Linked DNA regions of Homo sapiens. The main gene of each other region encodes a partner of the protein of the gene in region 2 in a complex. Each region holds a gene or a part of one and is shown on either strand. Other genes may lie near its edges.

What was found. The genes of interacting proteins can lie anywhere in the genome.
Region 1: the proteins of GDF5 (region 2) and TWSG1 are in contact, whole or in part, in a crystal structure (PDB 8BWL), measured with the Homo sapiens proteins. Residues at the interface, in NP_000548.2 of Homo sapiens: Glu434, Phe435, Pro436, Ser439, His440, Glu442, Asn445, Val448, Ile449, Leu452, Ser455; in NP_065699.1 of Homo sapiens: Cys26, Lys28, Cys31, Ala32, Ser33, Val35, Ser36, Leu39, Ile40, Cys44, Gln45, Cys46, Arg47, Cys73, Val74.
Region 3: the proteins of GDF5 (region 2) and HJV are in contact, whole or in part, in a crystal structure (PDB 6Z3L), measured with the Homo sapiens proteins. Residues at the interface, in NP_000548.2 of Homo sapiens: Met412, Trp414, Trp417, Phe478, Asp480, Ser481, Lys488, Tyr490, Met493; in NP_001366281.1 of Homo sapiens: Arg95, Arg98, Gly99, Leu101, His104, Ser105, His108.

Annotation. Positions count from the first base shown.
Region 1 is NC_000018.10:9,337,760-9,344,781, reverse strand, and holds part of TWSG1 (twisted gastrulation protein homolog 1 precursor), read right to left. Parts: intron 1,772-7,022; exon of another isoform or gene 1,749-1,771; intron 1-1,748. UniProt on the Homo sapiens protein: May be involved in dorsoventral axis formation. Seems to antagonize BMP signaling by forming ternary complexes with CHRD and BMPs, thereby preventing BMPs from binding to their receptors.
Region 2 is NC_000020.11:35,435,211-35,442,223, forward strand, and holds the start of GDF5 (growth/differentiation factor 5 preproprotein), read right to left. Parts: upstream 3,019-7,013; 5' UTR 2,719-3,018; coding exon 2,088-2,718; intron 1-2,087. UniProt on the Homo sapiens protein: Growth factor involved in bone and cartilage formation. During cartilage development regulates differentiation of chondrogenic tissue through two pathways.
Region 3 is NC_000001.11:146,018,727-146,025,812, reverse strand, and holds the start of HJV (hemojuvelin isoform a precursor), read left to right. Parts: upstream 1-4,077; 5' UTR 4,078-4,226; intron 4,227-5,474; exon of another isoform or gene 5,475-5,492; 5' UTR 5,493-5,581; coding exon 5,582-5,678; intron 5,679-6,078; coding exon 6,079-6,638; intron 6,639-7,086. UniProt on the Homo sapiens protein: Acts as a bone morphogenetic protein (BMP) coreceptor. Through enhancement of BMP signaling regulates hepcidin (HAMP) expression and regulates iron homeostasis.

The DNA.
Region 1 (7,022 bases), on a different chromosome or scaffold from region 2:
AATGAGACTCTCGTCTAAAACAAACACACACACACAAAAAAGAGCACTGGTTTTCAATAGGTATTTCCCCAAAGATATACAATAAGCTAACCAGACATGGTGGTGCATGCCTATAGTCCCAGCTACTTGGGAGACTGAGGTGGGAGGATTGCTTGAGTCCAGGAGGTTGAGGTTGCTGTTAGCCGTGATTGCACCACTGCACTCCAGCCTGGGTGACAGAGCAAGATCCTCTCTCAAAAAAAAAAAAAAATACATACATACACACACACACACACACACACACACACACATGCATTCACTAAGCACATAAAAAGATGCTCAACATCATTAGCTATTAGGGAAATGCAAATCATAACCACTCCACAAAGGTGCTACAATAAAAAGGAAAGATAAGTGTTGGTGAGGCTATAGGGAAACTAGAACTCTCATACACAACTGGTAGGAATGTAAAATAGTGCAGCCACTTTAGAATAAACACTTCAGCAGTTCCTCAAAATGTTAAACACAGAGTTGCCATATGGCCCAGCAATTCTACTCCTAGGTATATACAAAAGAAAAATTAAGAGATACATCCAGGGTTGTCTGTAGCAGCTCACACCTGTAACCCCAGAACTTTGTGGGGCCAAGGCAGGAGGATCGTTTGAGGACAAGAGTTCAAGACCAACCTGGGCAACATAATAAGATCCTGTCTCCACACACAAAAAATTTTTTTAATTAGCCAGGTATGGTGGCACACACCTGTAGTGCTAGCTACTTGGGAGGCCAAGGTGAGAGGATCGTTTGAGCCCAGGAGTTCAAGGTTACAGTGAACAATGATTGCACCACTGCCTGTGTGCACAGGCAGTAAACAAACCTGTGTAACACAGTTTATCTCTTAAAAAACAAACAAAGATACATCCACACACTGAAACTTGAATATTCATAGCAGTATTATCTACCATAGCCAAAAATATAAGTAACTCAAATATCCTCCAACCAATAAATGGATAAATAAAATGTGGTATGCCCATTCAGCAGAATATTATTTGACCAAGGAATGAAATACTGAATATGTTACAACACACAGGAACCATGAAAACATTATGCTCAATGAAAGAAGTCAGACACAAAAGACAAGGTATGATTCCATTCATATTAAATGTCCAGAACAAGCATGTAGAGAGAAAGTAAACTGCCTAGGGTTTGTGGGGAGAGAGAATAGGAAATGACTTCTAAAGGGTATGGAGTTCCCTTCTAAAGTAATGAAAATGTTCTGAAATTAGATTGTGGTGATGGTTGCACAAGTCTGTCGATATGCCAAAACCACTCAATTGTACCCTTAAATGGGTAAATTTTATAATATATGAATCATATATCTCAATAAAACTGTTTTTTAAAAAAAATCTAACAGAGAATCCATCTTAGATTTATACTAATAAGAGTTCCAGAAAGAAAAGAGGACACTATACATAATTATATATTATACAAAAATATAGTTATATAAAACGTATATATTATATATGTATGTATGTTAGGACAAGATATATATATATATATATATATATATATATATATATATATATATATATATAACAAAAAACAAAACAGGGCATTTCCTAGTCTTTGGCTCAAAACTGATCCCCAAAAGACTCACAAGATACCAAACAGAATGAATGAAAAGACCAACACTAGACTCAACAGTTTAAATTCCATAATATGAAGGCTAATGAGATGATACTAAAAGTTTCTAGAGAGAATAACAAAGTTACCTATAGAGAATAAGAAACAGACTGGCATCAGACTTCTTATTGGCAATATGGAATGCTATTAGATAATAGAGAAATGTCTCCAAAGTTCTGAGGGAAAAGAATTTAACATAGAATTCTGTATTCAGGCAAACCATCAGTCAGGTGAAAGGTGAGAATAAATACATCTTCAAGACATGCAGGACCCAGAAAGCTTACTTTCCACACAGGCTTTCTTAGGAAGTTACTTGAGGGCATGTTGGGACAAAATAAGGGTTACTGTTAAAAACAACAAGATACGAAATCCAAGAAACACTGGAACCAACTTGGGAAAGTAATGATGGAAAGTCACCATAAGACAGCTTGCATCAGACCTAGATTGCAATCAGTTAAGTCTGGAAACATCAAGACTGAAGGCTCCATTTGGGAGGAAAAATACATTAAGTACTTAAAACAATATAAGGTGCTAATGATTGATGATACAAGGTAAAGAAAGATAATTAGAAACTCAAGAAAAACAAAATCATTCAAGAAGGGAAATGTAATCATAGTACCTATGTGACTACAGTCAACAGTCAACAATATTTATATAATCATTACAATATAAACATGGTTTATTGCCAGTTTTAGAATATACCTGTAAATAAAGCATTAGAAGATTCAAATAGAGTTACAAAACAGAGAAATAAGGTTAGTAATTACCTATAGTGCACTCACGTGCCAGGCATTGCTCTAAATACTTTACACCTAATCCTCACAATACTCGCACAGTATGGTTATTATCCCTGCTTTACAGATGAGGAAATTGAGGCATTGAGAGATTAACTAACTTGCCCAAGGTCATACAACCAGTAAGTGGCAGAACTGGATCCAAATTCAGATAGCCTGGTTCCAGAGTTCATACGCTTAACCATTATACTATGCAGCCTCTCAGAATGTAGATGTTATCAACCTTGACAATATAAAAGTAAAAGTACAGGTAACACTCCGTTCCCCACAGATTTTGATGCAGCCCATCAGAATTCCAAAAGTAGCCCATCAGAATGCCAAAAGTAGAAAATTTCAAGGGCAGTACTCATAAATGCAAGGGAAAAAACTGATTTCTTTGCTTTCTATGATGTTAAACATGGTAGCTTCACATGATCTCCCAAGACTGGAACCCAAACAAACCCTCTCTTCAATTCCCTCAAGAAATGCACTGTTCTTAAAACTCACTTATAGTCTGTCTCATTGCTAAAAAAAAAAAATAATAAAATAAAATAAACTTTAAAAGGAAAGGACTATTAATATTCTCCACTTACATCAGGAATAAAGAGATAGTGTCTCCAGTTGATAGAACAGAATAGAAAACCTTAAATATATTGAAGAAATTGAAAAAATAACCAAGAGATAAACTCAAAACTGTGATACAAGTGTGGCAGGGCAGGAGTGGGAAGGATGACATGATGAGCTATGACCTTATCTGTTATAGCAGAAAGGCAATTTTAGATATATAACATCTAAAACTGATGAATCAAGAAATAGTAGTACAAGCATATTATTTAGGCATATGGCTAAAAATTACTAACAGAAGTAAAAATATAAGAGTTAGATTAAAAGCGGTTTTCCCAGGGTAATAGAATGAGTAGGGAGAATTAGATCAAGAGATTCAATTTTTCACTATGTAGCCTTCTAATAATTTAATAATTTATTACTCTGATGAAAAAAAGAGAACATTTGACACATACTAGTTGGTTTCTTTCTTTAAAACTGCCTAGAACTAGAAGAAAATTTTGAGCTCACCTAGCCAGCCAATTCACTTTACAGTTTATATGTGGCAGAGTGTATTTTCCACAGATGGCCACACCATTATATCCCATCCACATGTTCAGCTTACAACATGACACTGTCACTCCTCCAACAGAGGTGGGGCCTATGTTCCCTCCACTTAAATCCAGGTGGACCTGCAGGAGAGATCATATAGCAGGATCACAGAGACACACACATATATACACAGAGAGAGTGAAAGGGAGAGAGGGAGGGAGATGGGGATAGAGAAGGGAGGAAGGGGAGGAGAAGTCAGGAAGAGACGTATACCTGAAGAATCTTCCCAGCCCAGGTATTAGACTTTATCAGTGAGCCTTCAGATTTTCAATGTCCAATACGTGGCCACTAGTCATATGCAGCTATGCAGCTAATGAAATTGAAATTGAATTAAATTTAAAATCAGATTTTCAGCCATACTAGTCACATTTCAAGTACTTGGTAGCCACGTATGGCTAGATTCTACTGTATTGCACAGGGTAGATGTAGATCTTTTCCATCATCGCAGAAAGCTCTATCTATAGTGCTGTTTCAGATAATTCCACCCCCACCACCTTCAAGCCGCCTTGCTAATGCCACGTGGAACAGAGATGAACTCTTCCGCAGAGCCCTGCTCAGAATGCAAATTCGTGAGCAAAATAAATGCTGTTTCCAGCCACTGGTTTTTGGGGTGGTTTGCCACACAGCCATAGTAAGAGGAACACATGGAAACTAAAGATCAGAATGTGAAATAATCTGCTAGAGTTTGGGAGTCCACAAAACTAGGTGAAGAGTGGAACTAATCACATTTCATTTCAACACTCAATAAATGTTTGTGAATAAACAAACAAGAAAATCCTCAATATTTGAGCCCTAGATCTTTTCTTTTTTTTTTTTTTTTTTTTTTTGAAATGGAGTCTTGCTCTGTCGCCCAGGCTGGAGTGCAGTGGCATGATCTTGGCTCACTGCAAGCTCCGCCTCCTGGGTTCACGCCATTCTCCTGCCTCAGCCTCCCGAGTAGCTGGGACTACAGGCGCCCATCACCACGCCTGGCTAATTTTTCGTATTTTTAGTAGAGACGGGGTTTCACCATGTTAGCCAGGATGGTCTTGATCTCCTGACCTTGTGATCCGCCCGCCTCGGCCTTCTGAAGTGCTGGGATTACAGGCTTGAGCCACCGCGCCCGGCCCAGCCCTAGATCTTTTCTAAATCCAAGTAGTCTACCATCCACCAGGATAGTTGTGTCCACTACTCCAGAAAAAAGTTTGATGTTTCCTGGCTCTGAAGCTACAACGGAATATCAGAAATGTCAGCATCCATGAATTTGTGACTGAAAATACGTCCTAGCTGATTTTGTTTACTAGAATCACCATTTGAGTTAGGTGAAGCTCCATTTGCTTTTCCAGTTTTTTTACACTGATATAGTACTCTTTACATTTTGAAGTATTTTGTTTTTTTACAATTTTTTTTTTTGAGACAGAGTCTTGCTCTGTCGCCCAGGTGGGAGTGCAGTCGCACGATCTCAGCTCACTGCAACCTCCGCCTCCTGGGTTCAAGTGATTCTCCTGCCTCAGCCTCCCAAGTAGCTGGGATTACAAGCATGCACCGCCATGCTCAGCTAATTTTTGTAATTGTAATTTTTTAAATTTTTTTAATGGCCAGGCACGGTGACTCACACCTGTAATCCCAGCACTTGGGAGGCCGAGGTGGCAGATTGCTTGAGCTCAGAAGGTTGAGACCAGCCTTGGCAGATCGCTTGAGCTCAGAAGTTTGAGACCAGCCTTGGCAACATGGCAAAACCCTGTCTCTACCAAAAATACAAAGTAAATTAGCCAGGCATGGTGCCACGTGCCTGTAGTCCCAGCTACACCAGAGGCTGAGATGGGAGGATCGCTGGAGCCTGGGAAGTCAAGGCTGTAGTAAGCTGTAATAGAGCCAAAAAATTTTTAAAGAGTCAAACAAACAAAAAAACCTTTACAAGTATCTACCCATATTAATCAAAAGCTTTCTCTTTTAAATACTCCCTTTAAAAGCAAGGTATTTTAAATAAAGTACAATTTTTTTTTTTTTTGAGACAGGGTCTTGCTCTGTCACCCAGGCTTCAGTGCAGTGGCACAATCATAGCTCACTGCAGCCTCAACCTCCTGGGCTCAAATGATCCTCCTGCCTCAGCCTCCCAAGTAGCTGAGACTACAGGTGTACATGATCATGCCCAGCTAATTTTAAAAAAACTATTTGTTGTAGAGACAGGGTCTCACTGTGATTCCCAGGCTGGTCTGAAACTCCTGGGCTCAAGTGATCCTCCTGCCTCAATCTCTCAAAGTGCTGGGATTACGAGGCATGAGCCACTGTGCATGGCCAAAGTACAATTTTTAATTACTTGAACTAATGCAAGTTATAGAGTTGAAGAGTCAAGAATATAATTTGGAATTTAAGAGAATTTCCATCTAAACATGAATACAGCAAATGTTATGAGACTTTATTGTGAATAATGAATAATGAAGCTACATTGAAACAATCTGGGAGGTACCACAGACTCCTCATCTGACCATAGCACAAAACTGGGCTTCATTTGCAGACACAAAGTTTCCAGCCAACACAAGCCTAAGCAGGCGTGCCTTATTAAGATTTCCACATACAAAATTAGGTGATTAAAGAATTAGTGTTAATTTTTAAACTGTAAAATTGGTCTAATAGCTATGTTGGTAAAGAGTTCTCTTTTAGAGATACATATTAGAATTATCAACAAAACAGTATCAAGGGATTTGCTTGAAATTAAAACAGCTGGGAGTGAATAATGTAGGAGGGTATAGATAAAATAAGAGTAGCCATGAGGTAGTGACTGCAGTAACTACTCATGGATGGTTCATTATATTCTTCTCCTTTTATACCTGAAAATGTCCACAGCGAAAAAGTTAAAAACTGAACAGCAAACACACTTCTCTAGTTAAATGTTTTGGTTTGAAATGCAAAGTTAGGGTTATCAGAGTACGAAATGGGGGCAAGTAGAATTCCAACTATTAGCGAGAAGGACCAAAATGTCAGAAATAAGCACAAAATGCTTCTGATGTATAAAAACAATTGTCACTCTAGCACATATACACAATTACTCTCAAGTGAGGGTTACAGTCATGTTAGCTGACTCATACTTTACATAGAATGCTAATGTGTGTGGCTACTGAATTTCTGAGTGCACAGCCTGCAACTAGAAAGGAAGCTAATCAGGAGTTCAATACGAGCCTGTTAACTTAGCCACATTACTTCCTCTTACTTTTCTCCCCAGAAAAATGAGAGTGGTGGCTACATTAAGAGGCCTGCCTTGATGATTGGAAGAGATATAACTTCGAAGTATCTTGAAAGCAGATTGTCCAATCCCAGCCAACAACTTGCCTGCAACATTGTGGGAGACCCTAAGCCACAGCCACCTGGCTAAACTGCTCCCAGATTCCAGGCCCTCAGAAACTGCATGAAATAATACATGTTTATTGCACTAAGTTGCTATGTTTTGGGGTAATT
Region 2 (7,013 bases):
GAGGCTGAGGTGGGTGGATTGCTTGAGCTCCGGAGTTCGAAACCAGCCTGCACAACATGGTGACACTCTGTCTCTACAAAAAATACAAAAATTAACCAGGCATGGTGGCGTGCACATGTAGTCCCAGCTACTCAGGAGGCTGAGGTGGGAGGATTGATTGACCCCAGGGAGGTCAAGGCTTCAGTGAGCCGTGAATTCGCTATTGCACTCCGGCCTGGGCAACAGAGAAAGACCCTGGCTAAAAAAAAAAAAAAAAAAAAAAAAAAAAAAAAAAAAAAAAAAAAAAAATACACGCTTTTCCAGAGGAGAATCCCAAGGTTCAGAGAAGTTAGATGACTTGCTCAAATTCTCAGCTGCTTCCACCATCCCTTAAAGGAGACCTTGGTGCTCTTGTTATGCAGATGAGGCACAGAGATGGGGAGTGACTTGACTAAGGTCACACAGCAAGTTAATGACAAAGCTGGTCCACACTGACCTACAGCCCAATTTTCCTGGCTTTCCAGTGCAAGGATTTTGTTGCCTATGTGTCTTACTCTCCTGAGCATGTGTGTGTGTTACAGTTGTATGCATGTGTGTGATTGGGTTCATATGTGAATATGAAAGAGTGTATACGTTAATGACGCATTATATGTATAAATGATTGGGCTTGTGTGACTATTTGAAGAGCACATATATGTCTGTATATGCATGATTGATCTTGTGTGTGTATGTAAGAAGGTGTGTGTGCACATGCATATGTGTGTGATTCGGCATGTGTGTACGTGTGTGATTCAGCACGTGTGTGTGTGAGTCAGCATGCATGTACATGTGTGATTCAGCATGTGTGTATAAACATAAGGCTATGTATGTGTATGTGAGAAGCTCAGTAGTATCTCCGAATCAGCATGCCCTCCTTCCTAAATTGCAATTTGCCATTGGGGAGCTTTCATATATTGCTCTAGAAGGTGACTAATTAGGCCTTTAAACTCCCCATCTCCCCCTCTCCAAGCTCCCTTAGTGCTGGGGGGCACACGGACTTATTTTATGAGCCCCCAAGGGGTCACAGCTTTCCCTGGCTGGGCAGGCAGCCAGACCACCTCCCCCACCTCAGCCAGACCTGCTGCCTCTGTGCCTCCCCCGCCCCCTGGCAGCCCCCTCCAGGCCAGCTCTAATGAGGAGCCTCTCCCACCCTCTGACCCCTCCCCCACCCTGCCAGCCTAGGACCAGAGCAAATGAGCTGCAGGCAACTTGAGCGACCAACAGCCCACCTCCCTCTTCACACTAGGAAGAAACTGAGGCCCTGAGAGGGGGAGGGACTTGCTTAGATCACACAGCAAGTGGAGAGGAAAAGCTGCAACAGTAACATTAGGTGGGCCGAGAGAGACAGAGGGGAGCAGGTAGTCTCTGGAGTTAATGAGGAGAATGAGGCATGTTCAGGACAGCATCTAAAGTTTTCATGTTGGAAGGGCTCTCAGAAACCACCCTGTCCAACCCCATATAGGTGTACAGATGGGAAAACGGAGACCCCAAGTGAGAAGGAGCTTTCCCAAGGTCATACTGCGAGTTAGGCCCTGGGTCTGCTCCCTCCCCATGTATCTGAACATCATTCCATGACTCCAAGATGCCCCATTTACTGTGTGCACCTCTCTTGCCTCCTCTATCCCCTTGCCTGAGGGCAAAGTTGCAGAAGCATGGGGACCTCAAGATTCATTTCTTTCTCTGCCGTCTGAGACCGCCTACAAACCTGTGAAGCTTGGAAAGTTCGGCCAGCCCAGCAGGTACAGATGCACAACTGAGCAATCAAGTCTCGGAATCTGGTCTCCAACTCTGCCACGAACTGGCAGGTCTTGTCTCTTCTCTAGGCTTTAGTGCCCACTCTGCACCTTGCAGGCGTTGGACCTGGTGCTTCCTAGGTGCCCTCCAGCCCTGATGTGTGGGCAGCCTAGGATCTGCTATGTGTGAGATATGTGTCAGTGTCCCCAGACACCCACCCCGGGCCAGATGCACACAGTGTCTCCCACCAGGGCAGTGCCAGGGCTTTGAAAGCCCCTCCATTCATGCAGATGCCCCTCCCTCTGAGCCGTGCCCCTGCCACCCCGCCCCCTCACCTTGCCCTTTGTCAATAAAGCTGGTGATGGTGTTGGCCAGGCCAGCCTCCAACTTCACGCTGCTGTTGCCTCCCTTTCTGTCAGCATCGGACAGCGTCCTGTACAGCGAGAGCATGTACTCGTGGGGTGTGATGGGGGGTGGGCGAAACGGCTCCTTGGGCTCTCGTGGGGGCCCGGGCTCCCTGGCCTTCTTCAGCAGGAAGGAGCTGGGGACAGATCCTGCTTTTGGGGGTGCCTTGCCTCCGGGAAGCTGTCCTTTTGGGGTCACAGTCCGGGCTGTAGCCTGCCTTGTTTGGGGAGGGTGTCCTGGCTTGGGTTCAGGGCCGCCCGGTCTGGGGGGCAGCTTTTTGGGTTCATCCTTCTTGGGCTGTGTCAGGCCTCCTGTCTGCCCGGTGCCTCCCTTTGCCCTGGCATTGGCATTGGTGGCCCCCCCACCATAGCTGTGACCCCCTGGCCTGAAGACGTTCCGGGCCAGGGGGGGCCTCTCCTTGGCCTCTGCTTTGGCCAATCCTGGCCTGGTCCCCTGGGGTCTCTGGCCCAAGTCAGGGGCACCCAACACAGTGCAGATGAATTCCAGGTCCAGCCAAGCCAGGTACCAAAGCAAGAAAGTGAGGAGTTTGGGGAGTCTCATCCTCTGGCCAGCCGCTGAATGACACCAAAGAGAACAGCGGCAGCAGCGAAGGTGCCTCTGGTTTGGCAGGAAAAACCATGAAAGGAGTGGACTTTCAAAAGCAGCGGCAGCAGCAGTAGCAGCAGAAGGAAAGGCTTTCTCCTCAGTCTGAGACTCTTGAAGTCTGCCGGGTGTGTGTTTGTATCCAGTCCCATAGTGGAAATGCTCTCGTATCCAGACGTGCACCGTCTCCAGTCAGCAGCTGAAAATAACTCGTTCTTGAAAGGAGAAAGCCGACCGCCCCCTTTCTCCTGCACAACTGACTGAGGGCTTGAAGGAGGCTTGTATAAGGCTGAGGGATTTTTCCAAGAAGGAAGAATGGCGTAATGCTGCCTGTGTGCTCCAGTTTTTTTTTCCCCCTAGTTTTGAATCCTTTCCAGTGAAAATACTTCACACACACACACACACACACACACACACACACTCACAGGCCTGCAGGTGCTCAGAAAAATCTTTTACAAACCTGAACTCAGGAATTGGAAACGGAATTCCAACCCAAACCAATTTAATTACTCTCTGATGTCATGCTGTCTAAACTCATTTAAGTGCGATATATTTATGTGAAAAAAATCACCGCTGCCCTTTCGAGGCCATGGCTCACGGGGGCTCCTGGCACAGAGCCCTGCAGCGGGACTCTAGGCTTAGGGGGCCTCCCCCTCCACAGGGCAGACTCAGGGGTCTTCACCTCCACCTCATGGAGCAGCCCACCCCACTTTCCCGAGGAGAGATGCTGAAGAATGAGCTCAAAGATCTTAAGCCCCAGAAGCATGGGGAGTGTGGGTTTGTAGTTAAGTTCTTAGAGTGTTTTTAAAGCAGTTTCAACTCCTGCATCTAGTCTGGGACCTGATTTGTTATGCGTGTGTGTGTGTGTGTGTGTGTGTGTGTGTGTGTGTTTATGTGCCTGTGTGTGTGTGTGCCTGTGTGTGTGTGTGCCTGTGTGTGTGTATTGGGAGTAGGGACAGCACAGATGGCAGCATTTACCCACATTTTCTTTTATTTTAATAAACTTGTGGTGACCCAGAGACTGAAAAATATCAGTGCCCACTACACCCCCTCCCTACCCCCAAATGCCATTGACTGAGTGCATATTCTTCAGGCTTGGGGGCACTGTCGCCCTTAAGTTCACTCCTTGGATGGCGGCAGGTCCAGGGTGTACCCCACCACCACCCCAGCAGAGACGTCCTCTGAGTTTTCTTAGACAAGACTGGCTGAGTCTGGGGCAGCAGCGGCCCCTACAGGAGGCTGGAAAAGCCATTTCCCACATGACGCTTTTTTTTTTTTTTTTTTTGAGACGGAGTCTCGCTCTGTCGAGTGCAGTGGCATGATCTCAGCTCACTGCAATCTCTGCCTCCCAGGTTCACGCCATTCCCCTGCCTCAGCCTCCCCAGTAGCTGGGACTACAGGCCCCTGCCACCACACCTGGCTGATTTTTTACGTTTGTAGTAGAGATGGGGTTTCACCATGTTAGCCAGGATGGTCTCGATCTCCTGACCTCGTGATCCGCCCGCCTCGGCCTCCCAAAGTGCTGGGATTACAGGCGTGAGCCACCGCGCCGGGCACAATTTCCCACATGATGTTTTTCTGGTAGCTCTGGAAGGTCTGAATTCCAGCTGAACTCAAGGGTTTCTTAAAGTGCCTCATTGAAGTATGGAAGATCCCTTCCTCTGGGGAACCTTCGCCGTAGAGCCCCTGGGCAACTTAACACAGGGTCAGCGGGGAAAGCTGTTCGCTTCACCTGAAATATCCTCCTCTCTCTCTCCCACAACTGGAGGAAGCACTCTACATCCTGAGAAGTTTAGCTGAAAATTTACCTCCTTCGGGAAGCCTTTCCTCGTCCCCAGACAGAGCCAGTTACCCCTTCTGTACATTTCTCTACAACAACACTTTTCACGCTGTAAGAAGGATGGCGGGGGAGAAGCAATAGTCAGATAGGCTTCCTTCTTTTTTTTTTTTTTTTTTTTTTTTTTGAGACAGAGTCTCACTCTGTCACCTAGGCTGGAGTGCAGTGGTGCGATCTTGGCTCACTGTAATCTCCACCTCCTGGGTTCAAACGATTCTCCTGCCTCAGCCTCTCGAGTAGCTGGGACTACAGGTGCACACCACCATGCCTATCTATTTTTTGTATTTTTAGTAGAGACGGAGTTTCACCATGTTGGCCAGTCTGGTCTCGAGCTCCTGACCTCAAGTGATCCACCCACCTTGGCCTCTCAAAGTGCTGGGATTGCAGGCATCTCTACCAAAAATACAAAAAATTAGCCGGGTGTGGAGGCAAAGGTTGCAGTGAGCCGAGATCGCACCACTGCACTCCAGCCTAGGTGACAGAGCTAGAGTCCATCACACACACACAAAATAAGTAAATAAATAATATTAATAAAATAAAAAAATTAAAAACAGACTTGTTCCCACTGAACCAGTCCTCTCTGGCATCCCTCCCTTCACTCCCTCCTCACCACCTCTGTCACTGCCCTGTCCTCCTCATTGCTTGCCTCGCTATGATTCTCCCCTATAACTGGCTTCTAGGCCTCCAGGCTCTCTCTGGTTCAACCCTCTACTAAAAGCTACCCATCAAACAAGTGCCAACCCACGTGCCACCTCCTCCATGAAGCCTTCTTGCATCCTCCAGAAAATGCACACTCCCCCTGAGCTGCCATCACACATTTTCTGTGCTCTTTTACATTTTTTGGCAGCTGAAAGTTTATTCAGTCTCTGCCTCTGCCCCCTATCCCAACACAGTTTGTTTCTTCCACTCTGTATTTTGTCATATTTTAAAATCATAACTTAATTCCTTATAACTATAATAATTTCTTTACATACCTGTCTCTCCCATTAGATTATGACTAGACTGTGCCATATTTATCTTTGAATTATACCCAGTGCTTGGCAGAGGGCCCAGCCCACAGCAGCTCTCAGTACGTGTTATATGAATAAATTAATCTCTAACTGGCCCTTATTGACAAAAATCATCATTTTCTACTTTGAGGTGTAGTTATTTGTGGACATAACCTGCCTTTCCCATTAGACTCTAAGTTTCTTGAAGGGAAGAATTGTCTTGCCACTTCTTAAGCATTTTGTAAGCTCAGAGAGTGAATAAATGAATGAGTTGAACAACCACAATGTCTCTGTACGTGGCTTGATAAAGAGCAAGGATTCTGGAGACAAACAGACCTGGTTTTGAAGCTTGGTTCTGCTATTTATGTATTGTGTGATCTTGGGAAGCCTCTAAACCCCTCTGAAACTCTAAACAGTGATAACGATAGTGCTTACCTCACAGGACTCTTGTTGGAGATTCAATGAAGTAAATTGCGGCCAGGCGCAGTGGCTCACGCCTGTAATCCCAGCACTTTGGGAGGCCGAGGCAGGTGGATCACGAGGTCAGGAGATCAAGACCATCCTGGCTAACATGGTGAAACCCTGTCTCTACTAAAAAAATAAATAAAATTAAATTGCATAAAGTGATCAACTATTAATGGCAATTGTTAATGATAGCTTTTTTTTTTTTTTTTTTTAGATGGAGTCTCACTCTGTCACCCAGGCTGGAGTACAGTGGCATGATCTTGGCTCACTGCAACCTCCACCCCCCGGGTTCAAGTGATTCTCCTGCCTCAGCCTCCCAAGTAGCTGGGACTACAGGTGCGTGCCACCACGCCCGGCTAATTTTTGTATTTTTAGTAGAGATGGGGTTTCACTGTGGTAGCCAGGATGGTCTCGATCTCCTGACCTTGTGATCTGCCTGCCTCGGCCTCCCAAAGTCCTGGGATTACAGGTGTAAGCCACCATACCCGGCCAATAATAGCTATTTTTTTTAAAGCACTTATTCCAGTCAACTAGACTCTGGGTTTTGTACTCCATTGCATTTATGTGTTATTTATCTTCATGACAATGCTATGAAGGTAGTGGTTTTCATTGTTGTTTTTTGAGACAGGGTCTTACCTGTTGCCCAGGTTGGAGTGCAATGGCGTGATCATGGGGCTCAGGTGATCCTCCCACCTCAGCCTCCCAAGTAGCTAGGACTACAGGTGCACATCACGATGCCCAGCTAATTTTTGTATTCTTTGTAGAGACAGGGTCTCACCATGTTGCCCAGGCTGGTCTCAAATTTCTGGGCTCAAGTGATCTGCCCGCCTTGGCTTCCCAAAGTGCTGAGATTACAGGTGTGAATCACCACATGTGGCCGAAAGTAACTTTTTTTATTTTTTTGAGATGGAGCCTCGCTCTCTCACCCAGTCTGGAGTGCAGTGGCGCAATCTCAGCTCACT
Region 3 (7,086 bases), on a different chromosome or scaffold from region 2:
CCTCATTCAGAGTTTTAGAGACTAGGAAAAAACAAACAAACAACAAAATCAGCCCTCACTATTCTAAACTGTAGTTCAGAAATATCCAACAGAAGCTGAAACTCTATAAGAGGTTCCTTTTAACCTCTCCTTAGGGAAATGGTCCCATAATTCCTTTGGGGCATTCTCTCCCTTGCTACAGCAAGCCAGTAGATTTAACTTTTTTGACTACAGATTTGTTTCCAGTGGTGTTTAGTTAATGAGCTTTGACAAAGATAATGGTCAAATTTCTCCAATATCAATTGACTATGTGAAGAATATACATATATATACACACACACACACACACACATATTTGTGTGTGTGTATGTAATATATACATATTTATATAAGAACATATTGGCAGGGCGCAGTGGCTTATGCCTGTAATCCCAGCACTTTGGAAGGCCAAGGTGGGCGGATCACTTGAGCCCAGGAGTTCGAGACCAGCCTGGCCAACATGGCAAAACCCCATCTCTACTAAAAATACAAAATTAGCTGAGTGTGATGACACATGCCTGTAATCCTAGCTACTCAGGTGGCTGAGGCATGAGAATCACTTGAACCCAGGTGGCAGAGGCTGCAGTGAGCCGAGATCTCTGGGTGACAGAGGGAGACCCTGTCTCAAAAGAAAAAGAAAAGAAAGAACGAACCCAGGTCATTTGTCCTGTAGAGTATTCACAAAGTCTGAATTTGCACCTTTGAGTTACCACTTAATGTCTCCTGTATTTCCTGTAAATTAGTAGTTAGCTCTAATCAGATTCAGACTGGTTTGTTTGTTTGTTTGTTTGTTTGTTTGTTTTTGGTATGGCTACTTCATGCAAGGTGGAGTTATGTACTCTATGATCAGGAAAACATGTTTATCTCTGTTTTCATGATGAATAACAGCCACTGTTTTTTTGTTTACGTAGAGATGGGCTCTTACTATGTTGTCCAGGCTGGTTTTGAACTCCTGGGCTTAAGCAATCCTCCCACCTCAGCCTCCCAAAATGCTGGGATTACAGGTGTGAGCCACTGTGCCCTGCCACAGTCATTGTTGACCATTGCCTAGATATATTAATTCATTTGGATTTACAAAATGTTGATATTCTAATTATATTATCCCTTCTTCAATTATTTACTGGAATGCTTCTATAAAGAGAAATTTCCCCCTCATCTTGAGATACAGTTCCCAAAAGAAAACCAGGATAAATACTTGATTCTTTCCAATTACCAGCAGTTTTTAAAATAATGAGTTGATCTGCCAGCATTCTCCAACAATGACCAATGGGTTTGTATTTTTAAGTATCATTGTGAATTCATGGATTTAAACATATTTTATGAATTTCAATCCATTGCAGATAGTATCCATTTTGATACTTAAATTGCCCCATCTTTGGCCAATGGGAACTATTCTAGTTGGCTCCTAAGTTCTTTTATTACAATCCTAACACTCTTTGAAAGCTTCCTTGCCTATCTTGGACAATACCTGCCCCAAACCTGAAATCAGCCACTTATCCAAGGAGTTGTTTGTTGGTCCCTTTTAACAGAAAATGGTATTTACATAGCACAATTTGAGTACTAGAGGTGTTTATTTTTACTGGATCATTGTTTCCAGGCCTTTTTAGGGTAAAGCTAGGAAAATTTTAAGGATAAAATAAACCATGAGTTCAGAGTTATATTTGCAATTTAAATTCAGAATTACGGAGTTTTCTCTTAACTTCATCAATCGTAAATATGTATCTCTTTATTCCACCCCAAAAATTCTGGTTCTCAGAGACACTAACATTATTAATCATTTGTTTTATCTCATAACTAAAATAATCTCAGAATAACAATACCAACACTAACACCATAATATGGCTATTTAAAAATATTTTTGCATTTATTTTCTGGCATTATAGTATATCCCACTTAGGCTGTCATAGTCAAATTATTATGTTTTAAAGTCACTTGAATAGTTTGGTTAGAAGCATTTTACATTTCTATAATGAAACTGCTTGTGATATGGCCTCTAATGGTTGAGAAATATTTGTCATATATATATACCTGAGAAGTATATATTTGACAAAAATATTTGTCATATATATACCTGAGAAGAGTGCTATGAGGGCCTCTAGACTCTGTATTAAAATAGAGCCAACTGGTAAAGATGGCTTAGTGATTGTGTTGGTTATTACTGAGTGTCAATTTGATTGGATTGAAGGATACAAAGTATTGATCCTGGGTGTGTCTGTGAGGGTGTTGCCAAAAGAAATTAACATTTGAGTCAGTGGGCTGGGAAAGGCAGATCCACCCTTAATCTGGGTGAGCACAATCTAATTCACTGCCAGCACAGCTAGAATAAAAAGCAGGCAGAAAAATATGAAAGGAGAGACTGGCCTAGCCTCCCAGCCTACATATTTCTCCCATGCTGGATGCTTCCTGCCCTTGAACATCAGACTCCAAGTTCTTCAATTTTGAGACTGAGACTGGCTCTCCTTGCCCCTCAAGCTTGCAGACAGCCTACTGTGGGACCCTGTGATTGTGTAAGTTAATACTTAATAAATTCCCCTTTATTTATATATCTACCTATATAGATATCCATATCTATATAGATATTAATAAATCTAGAGAGACAGAAAGCAGACTGGTGATGGCCAGTCTAGATGGCTAGATAGATAGACATGGATATAGATATAGATCTCTATATAGATAGAGGTAGATACAGATATAGATATATGCCCTATTAGTTCTGTTCCTCTAGAGAACCCTAATACAGTGACCGTATTTGGAATCGGTCCTTCTGTTAATTTCACTTGGCAAGTACTAAAAGATGATGATCTCAGATATACCTATGGCTGCAAAAACATGACATGGCTAAATCCCTTGGTTGCAGTATCTCTTTTCTTTTTTAAGGGGGGTGGGGGGGCGGGTCTCACTGTTGCCCAGGCTGGAGTGCAATGGCGTTATCATAGCTCACTGCAGCCTCAAACTCCTGCGCTCAAGTGACCCTCCTGCCTCAGCTCCCAAAGTGCTGAGATTTTGCAATATTTATGGTCACAAGATTATGTTATTCCATAAAAGTATCTTTCTGAGGCTAGGCATGTTGGTTCACACTTGTAATCCCAGCACTCTGAGAGGCTGAGATGGAAGGATTCATTGAGGCAAGGAGTTCAAGACCAGCCTGGTCAACATAGTGAGACCTCATCTCGGAAGGAAGGAAGGAAGGAGGGAGGGAGGGAGGGAGGGAGTGAAGGAAGGAAGGAAGGAAGGAAGGAAGGAAGGAAGGAAGGAAGGAAAAGTATATTTTTGAATCTTTTTCTATTTCTCCAACTCTTTCTTTAGAAGAATTCTATTTCCATTCTTTCTTCACCTCTTTGCCTTTGTTAGCCTTCTCTCCAAGCAAATCGGGAGCCTTTATTTTTTGTGTATTCATGAGGGAGAGGAAGATGAATTGCTGTACAAACTAAAGTAATGAAAATGGAGTAGGTAGGAGGATAGACAGCTGCAAGGATCTGAGCTGGATAGACTGAACAAACCCTCATCCTAAGCAACTCACAGCTCAGATTTCTTCTCTGGACAGCTGGCTTTTTTCGTCCTTCTGAAATACTCTGCAAAGATAGGAGAGGGGCTATGAACTACCTCTGCTATGGATCTTATTCAAAGTCAGCTACCTCCTAGATACTATCTGTAGAACCTAAATGTAATATTCAGCATAGCAGGGATGAACATGGTAAATGAAAGGTATCCAATTGCCCACTGTAATTTTTAAAGGCCAGGAGCTCAACATTATTGAAAATGCTGGAGGGCTGCCTGGAGTAGGCAGTGACCACAGAGTCACACAAGCTGGAATTGGATATCCAACTTGTCTGTCATATTTCTCTCCTCCCTCCCTGACTTGGCACTCAATACTCCATATTCTTTCTAATCCTCTAACCCTCCCCACTCCCCCAACTCCCACACCCTACCCCCACCAACGTTCCTGGAATTTTGGACTTAGCTATTTTTAAAACCGTCAACTCAGTAGCCACCTCCCTCCCTGCTCAGCTGTCCAGTACTCTGGCCAGCCATATACTCCCCCTTCCCCCCATACCAAACCTTCTCTGGTTCCCTGACCTCAGTGAGACAGCAGCCGGCCTGGGGACCTGGGGGAGACACGGAGGACCCCCTGGCTGGAGCTGACCCACAGAGTAGGGAATCATGGCTGGAGAATTGGATAGCAGAGTAATGTTTGACCTCTGGAAACAGTAAGTCAAAATGAAATTGCAATTCCTTTAATAAGCTTTTATATTGAAGTTAGACTTTTATAAAATTACAAACACCTACTTGGATGTCTCTCGTCCAAATGCTGGGATCTCTCCCTACCAAGGTGCCCCAATCTCCATTTCTCTTTCTGTCTTATTTCTTTCTGGCCTCTGGCCTCTAGCTTTTTGAAGTTTAATTCTCTGTCTCTCCTCTGGCAGTCTTAGCCCTCTCTTTACCTTATTACCTCAAGACTCCTGATGAAGTTTTAGAAGGAGTTCCCTACGTCCTCTATTCTGTAGTTTTCTTACCAAGGCCAAATATGACCTCAGATGATGAGTCACTGATACCCTTCTATCCTGCCCCCACTTAGCAATGCCCTTCACATTGAGATTCCAAGCATGGGGGCTGCTCCCTGTAAATGATTTCTCCCCACAACTCTAGTCCCTCCATTCTATTCTCCCTCTTGCAGGACTCTTCCCCCAATCATATCCTTACCCATAAGATAGGGGAGTTAGGCAGGAGGGATTTAGCCCCTCTCCAACTCCTGTCATCATAAAAGACTGAGAACTTCAGAATTTGAAAAGAAGAGATTAATGGAAGGAGTGATATTTGGGAAAATACAAGAACTGTTGACTTAGAAAAAACAAATATTGATTTGCATGTTTGGTTTGCATCCCATTATTCCATGAGAGAGGGAGATTAAAATTGCAGCTCTCTAGAGCTGATGAAAAGAGATTGGTTTCCTTTTCATTTGAATACTGATATTCTAGACGGGATGGGTATGCCACCCTTAATCCTTCTTGTGTTCTGACACAAAGGAGGAAAAGAAATGTATGACTCCTAGAGGGCATCTCCTCCTAATGGAGAGGGACAAATAAGAAGTATGTTTCTGAAATATTTTCAGGTCCTAATTTTACTAGGGTACCCACTAGGATTACTGGTATCTGATCTAGCCCCATGATTCCTCCATCTTTGACATACCTGCTGTTTGGTAGCTCAGAATGGAGCAATACAGTGGACTCTGCCCCCTTGAGTTCACTCAACCTTCCCTCCACCCCCACCTAGGGGTATTGCACAAGGGCCCTAAAAGTGGCCACAGGAACAGGGCAAAGAGGCTTAACTGCCACACTTATAGTTTGAGGAACTCCAATCTCCCCAAATTCCAGTCTGTTCATCCTTTTCTTGATCTCCCCAGATTCACTCCACATTATCCTTACCAATCTTCAATTCTTCTCTCTCTCCATGTCCAGCCAAATTTCTTTTTTCAGTCACTTACAGGGCTTCCGGTCAAAATTCACTAGGTAGGAGGGTCATCAGCTGGGAAGAACCGGCGCCTGGGAAACCTGGCTGGATAGGTATGGGGGAGCCAGGCCAGTCCCCTAGTCCCAGGTCCTCCCATGGCAGTCCCCCAACTCTAAGCACTCTCACTCTCCTGCTGCTCCTCTGTGGACATGGTAAGGAAGGGCCAGGGAAGGGTTTGGGGAAATCTAGAGGGTAGGCTGCTATGTAGGGGTGGGCATGTGAGCCTGAATGAGTGAGGAGAGATAGGCGCTGAGAGTCCCGATCACTCGCCCTGCTCTCAAATACTAATATTTTATTTCCCGTTCAGTCTGGGGAAGGCCACTGGGGAAGCCCTTGGTCGACAGGCAGAAGAGATGTGGCAGGCTTACACACTTTTAGTAAGACAGCCGAGAGAACTAGGGACTAGGGGGTTGGGGGCTGGGGAAGGCCCTTAGTTAGGTTTTAGGAAGGCTGGAAACCCCTGATGAGATTTGGAAGAGTTATGAGCAAACTACACTCCGATAGAGCAGAGGTCTGAGGACCGTCTCACAATCCTCTCCCTTCTGTCTTTAGCTCATTCTCAATGCAAGATCCTCCGCTGCAATGCTGAGTACGTATCGTCCACTCTGAGCCTTAGAGGTGGGGGTTCATCAGGAGCACTTCGAGGAGGAGGAGGAGGAGGCCGGGGTGGAGGGGTGGGCTCTGGCGGCCTCTGTCGAGCCCTCCGCTCCTATGCGCTCTGCACTCGGCGCACCGCCCGCACCTGCCGCGGGGACCTCGCCTTCCATTCGGCGGTACATGGCATCGAAGACCTGATGATCCAGCACAACTGCTCCCGCCAGGGCCCTACAGCCCCTCCCCCGCCCCGGGGCCCCGCCCTTCCAGGCGCGGGCTCCGGCCTCCCTGCCCCGGACCCTTGTGACTATGAAGGCCGGTTTTCCCGGCTGCATGGTCGTCCCCCGGGGTTCTTGCATTGCGCTTCCTTCGGGGACCCCCATGTGCGCAGCTTCCACCATCACTTTCACACATGCCGTGTCCAAGGAGCTTGGCCTCTACTGGATAATGACTTCCTCTTTGTCCAAGCCACCAGCTCCCCCATGGCGTTGGGGGCCAACGCTACCGCCACCCGGAAGGTCAGGCACTCAATCTTCCTTCCGATCCACCTCATGAGATTCTTCCACGGGCACCATTCCTCCCCATCCCCACTATTCAACAGCAATGCTCCCTAATTCCCTTTTCTTCCTCAACCTCTCCCCCATCTCGAATCACTCCCTTCTACCAAACACCTGGAGCTGTAAATCACTTCCCCTTGATGGGAATTTGACTCAAATGCAGAAAACCTTGAAGAGACAGTCGGAGAGGGCGGACCTGAGGAGTTTCAGAAGGGAAACTTTTCCCTCTCCTAGGAAGTTGCCACGATTAAGTAGAGAGGGGGTTAAGTAGGGATGAGGTAATACTGGAACATAAATAGGAGAAGGGATCAAGGATTGAGGGCCATAGTAGTCCTGCATCTCTACTTGGATCAGATCTCTAACTATGTATGAGGTCTGATTGGGGGGAAGATGCACTGAACCCAAAATG